2 separate regions of the Homo sapiens genome follow, and region 1 is linked to region 2. Evidence: fine-mapped expression QTL. A gene starts in region 2. The other region holds a variant in brackets. All regions are shown on one strand. Distances are between the middles of the regions. Region 1 has its middle 13 kb from the start of MYH7. Region 2 holds the start of NGDN (neuroguidin).

What was found. PIP is the estimated chance that this variant, and not a neighbour inherited with it, causes the effect.
Region 1: its variant is the best candidate, but not a certain one, in a credible set for the expression of NGDN in lymphoblastoid cells (CAP, PIP 0.76).

What each region holds. Positions count from the first base shown.
Region 1 is chr14:23,446,239-23,451,621 of GRCh38, reverse strand. No RefSeq gene overlaps it. Among named protein-coding and RNA genes, the nearest start is that of MYH7, 13 kb to the right of the region's middle. The variant T/C (reference allele first, on the strand shown) is at 2,605.
Region 2 is chr14:23,466,764-23,472,146 of GRCh38, reverse strand. It overlaps NGDN (neuroguidin), which reads right to left and starts at 2,444. Exons shown (of 11, transcript NM_001042635.2): 1 at 2,420-2,444; 2 at 2,046-2,105; 3 at 1,170-1,241. The coding sequence starts at 2,431. RefSeq lists an enhancer at 1,741-2,681 and a silencer at 2,768-2,817.

The DNA.
Region 1 (5,383 bases), 21 kb after region 2:
AAAGACTTTTCCTACGTTTTCTTCCAAAAATTGTAAGTTTTAGATCTTACATGTAAGTCTCTGAACTGTTTTAAGTTATTTTTGTGTATAGTGTGGGGTGTGGTCTAAATGTATCTTTTTGCATGTGTGTATCCAGCACCATTTCCTCAAAGAATTGTTTTGGAATCTTTGTTGAAAATAAATTGATCTCCCTTCATTTTAAATTTTAACTAAATGAAAAATTCAGTGTCTCAGTTGCACTAGACACATTTCAAGTACCCAACAGCCATGTTTGGCTAGTGACTACCACACTCAGTAGTGTAGCCCTAGGGGACACAAAGATGAAAATATTACAGTTCTCAACCCCAAGGACCTCATATTCTGGTGCCATCAACTTAAGGAAACTGAAGCGGTGTAAGAATAAGCAATATGCTAACAATGAAAAGCAACAGCAGGAAAAAAAGCCACAATGATTGTAAATTAATGCTTTCAAAGAGTGGCTATATGTAAACATATTCATAATTTTTGACTAAGGAATTCGTCTCCTAGAATTTGTTCTATTGAAATCATTCAAAATAAAAAGAAGCCATGTGTACTTATGTTTAGAGATACTTTATTTATAAGTTCAAAAAAACTACAAACAGGGAGTCAGTGGGAAAGAGGAGTAACTGCTAATAGGTATGGTATTTCTTTTGGGGGTGATGAAAATGTTCTAAAATTTGATAGTGGTGATGCTTGCACAACTCTGAATATACTAAAAACTACTGAATCGTATATTGTAAAATGGTAAATGTTATGGCACATGAATTATATCTCAATAACAATGTTATTTAAAACTATAAACAATCTAAATATCAAACAAGTAAATGTTAATATTTTTACTCAGAAATAGCAAATGAATAGCTCCGTAGCTCCATTTATTGGGCATTTACTACATGCCAGGCACTATTCTGAGCACTTTACATGCATTAATTCAGTGGTTCTCAATGTGTGGTCCTCAATCCAGTAGCATCTGGTATGCAAATTCAGGCATCCCAGGCTGGAGTGCAGTGATGCAATCTCGGCTTACTGCAGTCTCCACCTCCCAGGCCCAAGTGATTCTCCTGCTTCAGGCTCCCAGGTAGCTGGGATTATAGGCATGCACCACCACACCAGCTAATTGTTTTGTATTTTTCATACAGATGGGGTTTCATCATGTTGATCAGGCTGGTCTCAAACTCCTGACCTCAAATGATCTGCCTCCCAAAGTCCTGGGATTACAAGCATGAGCCACTGCACCCAGCCAAGAAAATGTGTCCTAACAAAGCTTCTGTGTGATTCTGCAGCATGAACAAGTTTGAGAATCTCTGTATGTATTATGCCATTCTTGCATTGCTATGAAGAAGTACCTGAGACTGGGTAATTTACGAAGAAAAGAGGTTTAATTGCCTCACAGTTCTGCAGGCTTTACAGTATCTGCTCAGCTTCAGGGAAGGCCTCAAGGAACTTTTACTCATGGCAGAAGGCAAAGCAGGAGAAGGCATGTCATATGGCAAGAGCGGGAGCAAGACAGGGAGAGGGTGCCACACGCTTTTAAACAATCAGATCTTGAGAGAACACACACACTATGGTGAGGACAGCACCAAGGGGATGGAGCTAAACCATTCATGAGAAATCTACGCCCAGGACCTAAACACCTCCCACCAGTCCCCACCTCCAACACTGAGGATTACATTTCAACATGAGATTTGGGGGGACACATATTTAAACTATATCACTGTATTAAGTTATCTGACAGCAAACCCATAGGTTAGCAATATTATTATCCCCATTTATGAAATATAAGATTGTAAGAATATGAAATGCTAATTGGTGTTTTATGAGATTATGTACATATATATCTACACACAGCAGCCATACAAAAAATATGTATTATACACATATACACACCCCTTGGAAAGAACTGAACAAAGGAGAATAATGTGATTGGGTAGGAGATCTTGGGTGTCATTTTTGTAGTTGTAAAGTTTCAACAAAGTTTGTTTTGTGTGTTTCAGGGTCAGCTGTGTTGGACTGGCAAGTGCTTTCAAAGGAGAGCCACTGAGCTGTGCCTAGAAAAGCAGCCAGAAAAAGTCCCGACAAGGTCAGGGACTGAGAAAGCCCAACCTGGGGTGAGGGTGCTGTCCATAGACCAGTCAGACCTGGGGGGAGACTGTGAAGGGATAAGGTGGGGCAGTTGGGCCAGCTTATGGAGGGTCTTTAAATGCCAGCCAGAGGAGTCCAGGCTTCATCTTAAAGACAACAGGGAGCCCTGGAAGTTTCTATGAATGACAGATATGTAAGAGGTAGTGCTTTAGAAAATCAAGTCTGCTAGCCATCTGGTGAAATGAGCCTCTGGAAGACTAGTTAAGGTGCTGTTGCAATTATGCAGACGTGAAAAAGGGGCTTGCCTAGTGTTTTTCAAGAGAATGGAAAAGAAAGGAGGAGGCGGGACATTTCGAAGGTGGAATCTGCCGAATAGTATAAATGTAACTGAGTACCTTTCTCCTGGATCCCTTCCCCTTTCTCTTCTCTAGTTCCCAGTTTCTCTAGGTAGGTTTCTTCATTCTTTACCTGTGACCACAAGTCTAGAATCTCTCATGCAAA[T/C]GAATCAGAAACTAAACGTTGCTTTCCCCCAAGAATCACTGGTTATGCCACCTATTCTATAAAATCAGATAGTATCATGATCTCTTTTAATACACATTAATAGCTGCTCAGTGCCTATAGATTAAAGTCCAAACTTCCTTAACTTGGTTCAGAAGGTCCTTCATGACCAGCTGAACCTGCCTTCTAGGCTCTTCTCTTGTCATATTCCCCTGATTACTCCCATACTTTAGCCATTCTGAATCAATTTCAGTTCCTCTTGGGGCTTTGGACACGCTGGCTTCTCTGCTCAGCTCCTTCTTGACATATTCTGATATAATTTGTATCTGTGTCCCCACCCAAATCTCATATTGAAATGTAATCCCCAATGTTGGAGGTGGGGCCTGGTGAGAGGTGACTGGATCATGGGAGCAGATTTCTTATGAATGGTTTAGCTGCATCCCCCTTGGTACTGTCCTCACGGTAGTGAGTGAGTTCTGGTGCCATCTGGTCATTTGAAAGTGTGCAGCGCCTCCCCTTCTCTCTCTTGCTCCTGCTTTCACCATTGTGACGTGCCTGCTCCCTCTTTACCTTCCACCATGATTGGAAGCTTCCTGAGGCCTCCCCAGAAGCAGATGCCACTATGCTTCCTGTACAGCCTACAGAACGGTGAGCCAATTGAACCTCTTTTCTTTATAAATTACCCAGTTTCTGGGATTTCTTTATAGGAATGTGAGGACGGACTAATACATATTCCAATTTATCCTTTAAGTCTCGCCTAAAATGGTGTTTCTTCCAGACAGCCTTCCCTGATCGCCAGTCCAAATCACGTGGCCTTGCTTCATGCTCCCATGGCATCCGGACTTTGCCCTTCATAGCACCTGGTACTTCCTCCATTATAGTACCTGTTCTGTTATATTGTAACCACCTCTGTGCTTGTCTGCCCTGCTACGGTGTTAAAGTAATTGAAATGGACACTGGGCCTGAGGAATCCCTGAGCAGGAAAAGCCAGTTAGGCCTCTTAAGTGATCTTAACCTTGCTTGATTTGTGAACATAAGTGAAACTTAACTTGGGCTATTTCTTGTAAATGCCTATGTTAAAGAAAAACAGAACTTAAGCTCAATGAATCAGAAGCAACCAACAAACTTATAATTATGTGACTAGGGACTTTCTAACAGGACAGACCAAATAAGACAGCTGTATACCTGTAACCAATCAAATGTTTTATTTGCCTTACTTCCATGTTCCTCCTGTAAAAGCCTCCCACTTGTGTACCCTTAGTGGAGCCCCCCAGCCACTTCTGGTTTGGAGCTGACTGATTCACGAATTGCTGTTTGCTCAAGTAAACTCTTTTAAATCTTATGTGCCTCAGTTAATCTTTTTAACAACATTATTCTGTGAGCTCCCAAAGTCAAGACTATGCCTGCCACAAAGCTGGTGCTAATCAATGTTGGTGGAATGAATTCCTGGGGTGTGGTAAGCTGTGTTCCTGTTAACTGGAGCAGAACAGTAGGCCTGGAAGGACCTGGGATCTGGAGTTAGACAGGACCCAGTGAGATGGGGCAGATCTCAGAGAATATTCTCATTGCAGAGGCTGGAAGGATGTGGACTAGCCTGGCAGCAGATGAAAGGAGGTAGTCTATTAAAGCAATCAGAATCAGGAAGATGTTCTAATAAGAGGGCACTGGAACAGGTTTGGAAAGCCAAGCAGGCCATAGATAGTAATAGATACATTCACTGTTAGTGAATTCACTGTTTCTTAGAACATGTGCCTGTAACTTCATATACATAATCCTCAAGATAAGTATATGGAGTAGGTATTGCCATCCACATTTTACAGATAAGACTGAGGTTTAGAGCTGGGATTCAGAGCAAGATCTTCTTGGTTCCAGAGCCTGTGCTCTTTCCTCTACATTAGTGCTTCTTAAACTTTAATGTGCACAAAATCACCTTGGGTTCTTGTTAACATGCTAATGTCTCAATAGATCTAGGCTGGGGCCTGAGGTTCTGCAATTCTAACAAACTCCCACTGATGCTGATGCTGCCAGTCTATGGATTATATTTTGGGTCATAAGACTGCACATGATACTGCATGTTTTTTCTCAGAGAGGGTAAATGACACACCCAGGTCACATAGCTGGTTCGTGGTAGAGCCAGGATTTTTTAACCTAAGTCTGACTCCAAAATCTATGTTCTTAGTTATCAAAATATGCTATCTCCTTCTATGAGCAGGAAACAGTGCCCCTGGCTTCTTGGCTGGGGCTTAAGGGAAAAATCTAATCCCTGAGAAGTAGACAGGGCCAGGAAGACGAAGAGGGTTACCAAGACAAGGCCTCTGGCAGAGGGAACCAGGGCTCAGTTACCGGCCTGCGGCACAGGGTGGGGCCCAAGTCTTAGGAACAAGATAGAAGCTGAATTTCTAGAACTAGGGCACAGCAGCAAGAGTGACGATGCTGAGACTCCAAGTGTAGGCCAGAGCCCATGCAGGTCCTCCTCCTGGGTTCTCACATGCATCCAGGGACAGGGGCAGGACTGGCCCTTCAGGTATAATGAGGCATGGGAGAGGGGAAGTAGGACACAAGGGCTGGGAGCCAGGCCACTCCTCATATTTTCTTCCCCAGGATTCTTGGCACTGCCCAGAGAGGTGAGGCCTTCCTGAGGCTCACCTTTGGGGCTGTAGACCCCACTCCCTGCACTTCCCTTTCTCACCCTCCATTCTCTTGATTTCAAGCCTTCCTCCCACCTTTGGTCCTCCACATGCATGCTCCCTGTTTGCAAGAGAGGATGGTTCCATATCTCAGG
Region 2 (5,383 bases):
ATGGTGCGACCGTGGCTCATGGCAGCCTCGACCTCCTGGGCTCAACCGATCCATTCACCTCAGCCTCCTGAGTAGCTGGGACTACAGGCACACACCACTGCGCCCAGCTAATTTTTTTTTATAGAGATAGGTCTCACCACATTGCCCAGGCTGGTCTCAAACCCATGGGCTCAAGCAATCCTCCCACTCTGGCCTCCCAAAGTGTTGGGATTACAGGCGCATATTTCAATTTTAAGATGCACATGGTTTTCATATTTTAACATCTCTGAAATCAGGATGCATGTTTCAGTCACTGGCATCTTGGTATTATGTCATAAGCAATTTTTTTTTTTTTTTTGAGACAGGGTCTTGCTCTGTCACCCAGGCTGAATGCAGTGGCACAATCACAGCTTACTGCAGCCTCAACCTCCCAGGCTTAAGCAATCCTCTGGCCTCAGCCTCCTGAGTGGCTAGGACTACAGGCACATGCCATCATGCCCGGCTAATTTTTAACTTTTGTAGGGTCTCACTATGTTACCCAGGTTGGTCCCGAACTCCTGAGCTCAAGCGATCCTCCAGCCTCAGCCTCCTGAAGTGCTGGAATTACAGGCATGAGCCACCATGCCCGGCCTGTCACATTTTTTCTTAATATATACAATAAGTGATATGTCCCAATTAATAAGTGTCTTAGATTAGATGAAATCTGAAAGTAACTCCTCAGTTGGCCTACAGTAATCTTCAGAGTGACTTTTCCAGTCTTATTTCCTACCCCCAACACACATAACACAGAAAGTACATCCTATCACAAAAATGACTTACTCCTTTCCCTTATCACCATACTTTCAGGCCTTTGTGCCTTTGCACATGTTCCTTCTTTCTGTCCCTCCCATTTATTCCTCAAAATCCTATCACCTCCTCTGGGAAGCCTGTCCTGAATCCCTCTGCTCTTCTGGCAGTTAATTAATCCCTCTCTTTGGCTGGAGACTCATAACTCTGTAATGTGACTGCTACTATTAATACTTACATCTATTGCTTTGCTTTGTCTTCCCTCTAGACTTCAGCACAGAAACTGGATCATATTTATGTTTGAAGCTCGAGCACTTAGGATATATAAGACACAATAAACATACAATGAAAGAACTACTGAGAACATTAAGTCAGGGGATGCTTACTGTTTGAGTACATCTTACCTTTTCTGTAGGATAGGCACCAGCTTGAACTTTTTGTGTCAGTGATTTCACTTGTGCAGTTACAGCCATCACCTGAAATTAGCCCAAATAAAACAAGTGATTAGATTATATCAAATTATGTCTGCAAACTGTGAAGAGCAAAAGCTAAACAATGCCACCTAAAAATTATCTGAAACACTGTCTAAAGTATAGTACTATCTTCTCACTTCTCGGAAAGCATAGGAGAGATGGTTCTTCAAAAAGTTTAAAAAAAAAAAAACTTTCCACTTCTTAAAGAAGAGACCATCTTTTACTGAACCACAGGGAGGAGAAAAGGACTGAGAGAGTAGTGACTGAAGCACTGTAATTTTGTTTGTACTAGTTGAACTTACAATGCATAGAACTACATAACTCCCCGACTTATGACTTAATTTCCACTTTACGAGGGTGTAAAAGAAATATGCATTCGGTAGAAACCGTCCTTTTCTCGTGATGCTGGGCAGCGGCATCAAGCCTAAATTTCGACTTATGAGGTTTTCGAATTACAATGGGTTTATCAGGCCATAACCTCCATCGTTAAGTCGAGAAGCATCTGTATATAAGTGTGTATTACCTGGGCACCCAAAGGGCAAGTCATGTTACCATTCCAAGCACTGGTTTCCTTAGCTATATGAATAAAGGAAAACTATTCATATAATTTCTTTTTGGAGTTTCTTGTATTCCCTTGGGTGCAGAATCAATTACTTAGAATTCTGGCGTGAAAAGGTTTTGATTACATCATTTTACTCTAAGGTTTTTGGAAGCATTCACGTATCTCAATCACCAAAGTTTTGAGGTGAAGTACACAAACTCAAAGCCAATCCGTGACTAATTTATTCCAGAGGCGACACTACTCACTTGCTCCTGGAGATTTTTCAGAAGTGTCACGGCACTTGGCAGGTCGGACTCCAGCACCCCCTACAGAAGGGAGAGGAGGCGTAAAGAAAAGTCATTCTTTCCTCAGGATTATAGGAAAGTGGAACGTCTAGGGTGGGAAACTGCCCTCTCTCCGTCAGACACCCAGACTCGGGGCCTTCACACTCGGGTTCACAGACTCGCCTTAAAGCCAGCCCCTTGGGTTACCGGACAGGAACGGTAACTCTAGGGAGGCCGCCTCCCTGAAGCAACTTTCATCACCACCCTTCCCTGGTACCAACAGTTTGCCTCCAGCCGCTGAAGGCAAAGGACAACTCCACAATAGCTACGCGAGGAAGAAACCACACCAAACTCACCAGCGCCGCCATCTTCGCAAAGCCCACCCCTTCCGGTGTCGTACTTCCTGAGCGCTAAGGGCGACTTGATAGATTTGATAGACAACTGCCGCTTGCAAATCTAAGCCAATACGAATAAGGGCTTTCTCACTTCCGCCCCCAACAGGATAAACGAGAGGAGGAGTCTGATCTGGCCAATGGAATAAAGGAACTGGCTAAATTCGTCAGACTCAGAAAGAGTCGTCAGGACGAAAAAAAGCACTTGGCAAAGAGCGTGTGATTGGTAGACTGAGTAAAATGATTGACGGCAAGCCAATAAGAGACAGTCAAATAATTGATTGACAGTTGGAAGGACCAATAGAAAAAAGGAATTAGCAGAGCGAACTTAGCGCGTATTGGCTCCCGTCTGCCGCAGCACCCAGAGTCTTTTTTCACGGCACTTTTCTTGTAGTGCGTGAACCGGCCGCTAGGTGATGGGCCTTGGCTTGGCTTTGCGGTGTCGACATTGCAGAGCCGCCATTGCTGGCTGCTCATCCAACGGCCACCGCGCCAAATGCCTTACAGACCCGGTGGCCCTGGAATCGATTCTGTAACACTACTCCTTGTGTGACCGTGGACAAGTCACTCGGTCTCTGAGCCTTCTTCATCTGTAAATAAGAGAGCGAGGCTAGAGAAGCCCAGAGCCAGAGTTTAGAAACCGAGTGCGAGGACACCTGCCCTCTTGGTGTGCACTGTGGAGCGCTGAGAAACGGCTCCAATAACGCCCCGACACTCTTCGCTCCTACCAGTTTGGGGACATGAAAAGAATACGTTTTACAAATTGGGGAACGGTTCATATTTACATGACTTACCGCGGTCACACAGGTCTTCAGCAGAACTTGGTTCAAACTCTGGCAGTGCATGTTTCAGTATAACCTGCCTCATCATTACCCAGTGCTTTCAGATGTGTTCTCTCACTCTGGTTTTTCACAAGCTGGTGAAGTAGGTTGGACGGATACTCATTGTTCCCATCCCATGCCTTAGGAAATAAAGCACCGAAAGGGTGAATGATAGTGTATAATTTTTTGTTCACAACTCGTCCAACAGAGCTGGGTCTAGAAATCAGATCTTACCGACTTGAAGCTGTCTTTTGGAATTAAGAATAACACCTGTATCTGGGCAGGTGAGGTAAGGAAATCCTGGTATCTAGATCTTGCTGGATTCAAGAAGGCAGGAGGGTGTTCAGTCCCCACTCCTCTAACATTTAATTTGCTGCTTCAGGCCCACTGTGGAAGCTCAGGATGCTGTTGCAGCATACTTAGTCAATTATCCAGTAGCTTTTGTAATGTTTTATCAAGATTTGTATTATGAAAAGTTTCTATTTCTACATAAATTTTCGGACCTGTCTAATTAGATCAGCAATAAACTTTTCCTTTTCGGGGAATTTGAAATTTAGTTTGTTCATATGCTTTATGATAGCAATGAGAAAACAAATTGCACTGCCATATTTTGGGTTTTTTTGAGACCGAGTCTCGCTCTGTTGCCCAAGCTGGAGTGCAGTGGCGCGATCTCGGCTCACTGCAACCTCCGCCTCCCGGGTTCAAGCGATTCTCCTGTCTCGCCCTCCCGAGTAGCTGGGACTACAGGCACTTGCCACCACGCCCGGCTGATTTTTTTTTTTTTTTTTTTTTTTTTAGTAGAGACAGGGTTTCACCATGTTAGCTAGGATGGTCTCGATCTCCTGACCTCATGATCCACCCGCCTCAGCCTCCCAAAGTGCTGGGATTACAGGCGTAAGCCACCGCGCCCGGCCTTTTTTTTTTTTTTTTTTTTTGAGCGGAGTCTCATACTGTTGCCCAAGCTGGAGTGCAGTGCCGCGATCTTGGCTCACTGCAACCTCTGCCTCCCTGTTCAAGCGATTCTCCTGCCTCAGCCTCCTGAGTAGCTGGGATTACAGGCACCCGCCACCATATCCAGCTCATTTTTTGTATTTTTAGTAGAGACGGGGTTTCTACTAAACCATGGTTGGCCAGGCTGGTCTCAAACTCCTGACCTCACTATCCACCTGCCTCGGCCTCCCAAAGTGCTGGGATTACAGGCATGAGCCACTGCTCCCGGCCTTGATTATTAAAATAATTGTCCACCAGGAACGGTGACTTGAACCTGTAGTCCCAGCTACTCTGGAGGCTGAGGCAGGAGAATCACTTGAGCCCATGTCAAGGCAGCAGTGAGCCATGATCGTGCCACTGCACTCCAGCCTGGGTGACGGAGCAAGACCCTATCTCTAAAAAAAAGGTGAAAGAGGGAGACCCCATCTCTAAAAAAATAAAATACTTGTCAACTATAGGGGCAGAAAAGTGTGATACCTTTCCTCACCCATCATAAGGGTCATAGAAGACACTCCTATAACAAAAGAAGTTAACAAGAAAAAAGTTTGATGAATTTATTGAAAGTTTTACATGACACGGGAGCCTTCAGAAATGAAGATTCCATTTTTATGGTTAGGTTTGATGAAGAATGGACAGCGTGTAGAAATGTGATAGGACAAAAAGAGTATGATCTGACAGAACTAGACTGAGGGGGGAATCCCAGCAAGGCCTGTCTGTTCAGATTTTTCTTAGCCTCTCTAGATAGCAATCCTTTGGGGTATAGGGAATGCGAAAGGAAAATAACTTGGGACCCCAGTTCACTATGCCAAAAGAAAAAAATTAAGCTCAACGGAGTCATGCAAGCAACTGCCTTTGCTATTGTTCCTAAGCGGATAGCTACAGATAAAATGTTAAATATCTCTACAAGTATTTACTGTGTGTTCACCTTATCTTGTGTGCCGATTTACTGAGCCTGAGACAAATACCAATTGACTATTCCCCTACCTGCTCCTTTTCTCTTGCAACATGTGGATTAATGTACCCTCCCTCTTTCTCCTCCAGCCTACTTTTCCCCTTTTAATAGTGAAGCCCTGAAAGTCATCTTTGGAGAAAGGCACAAGCCTCACTCCCAGACACG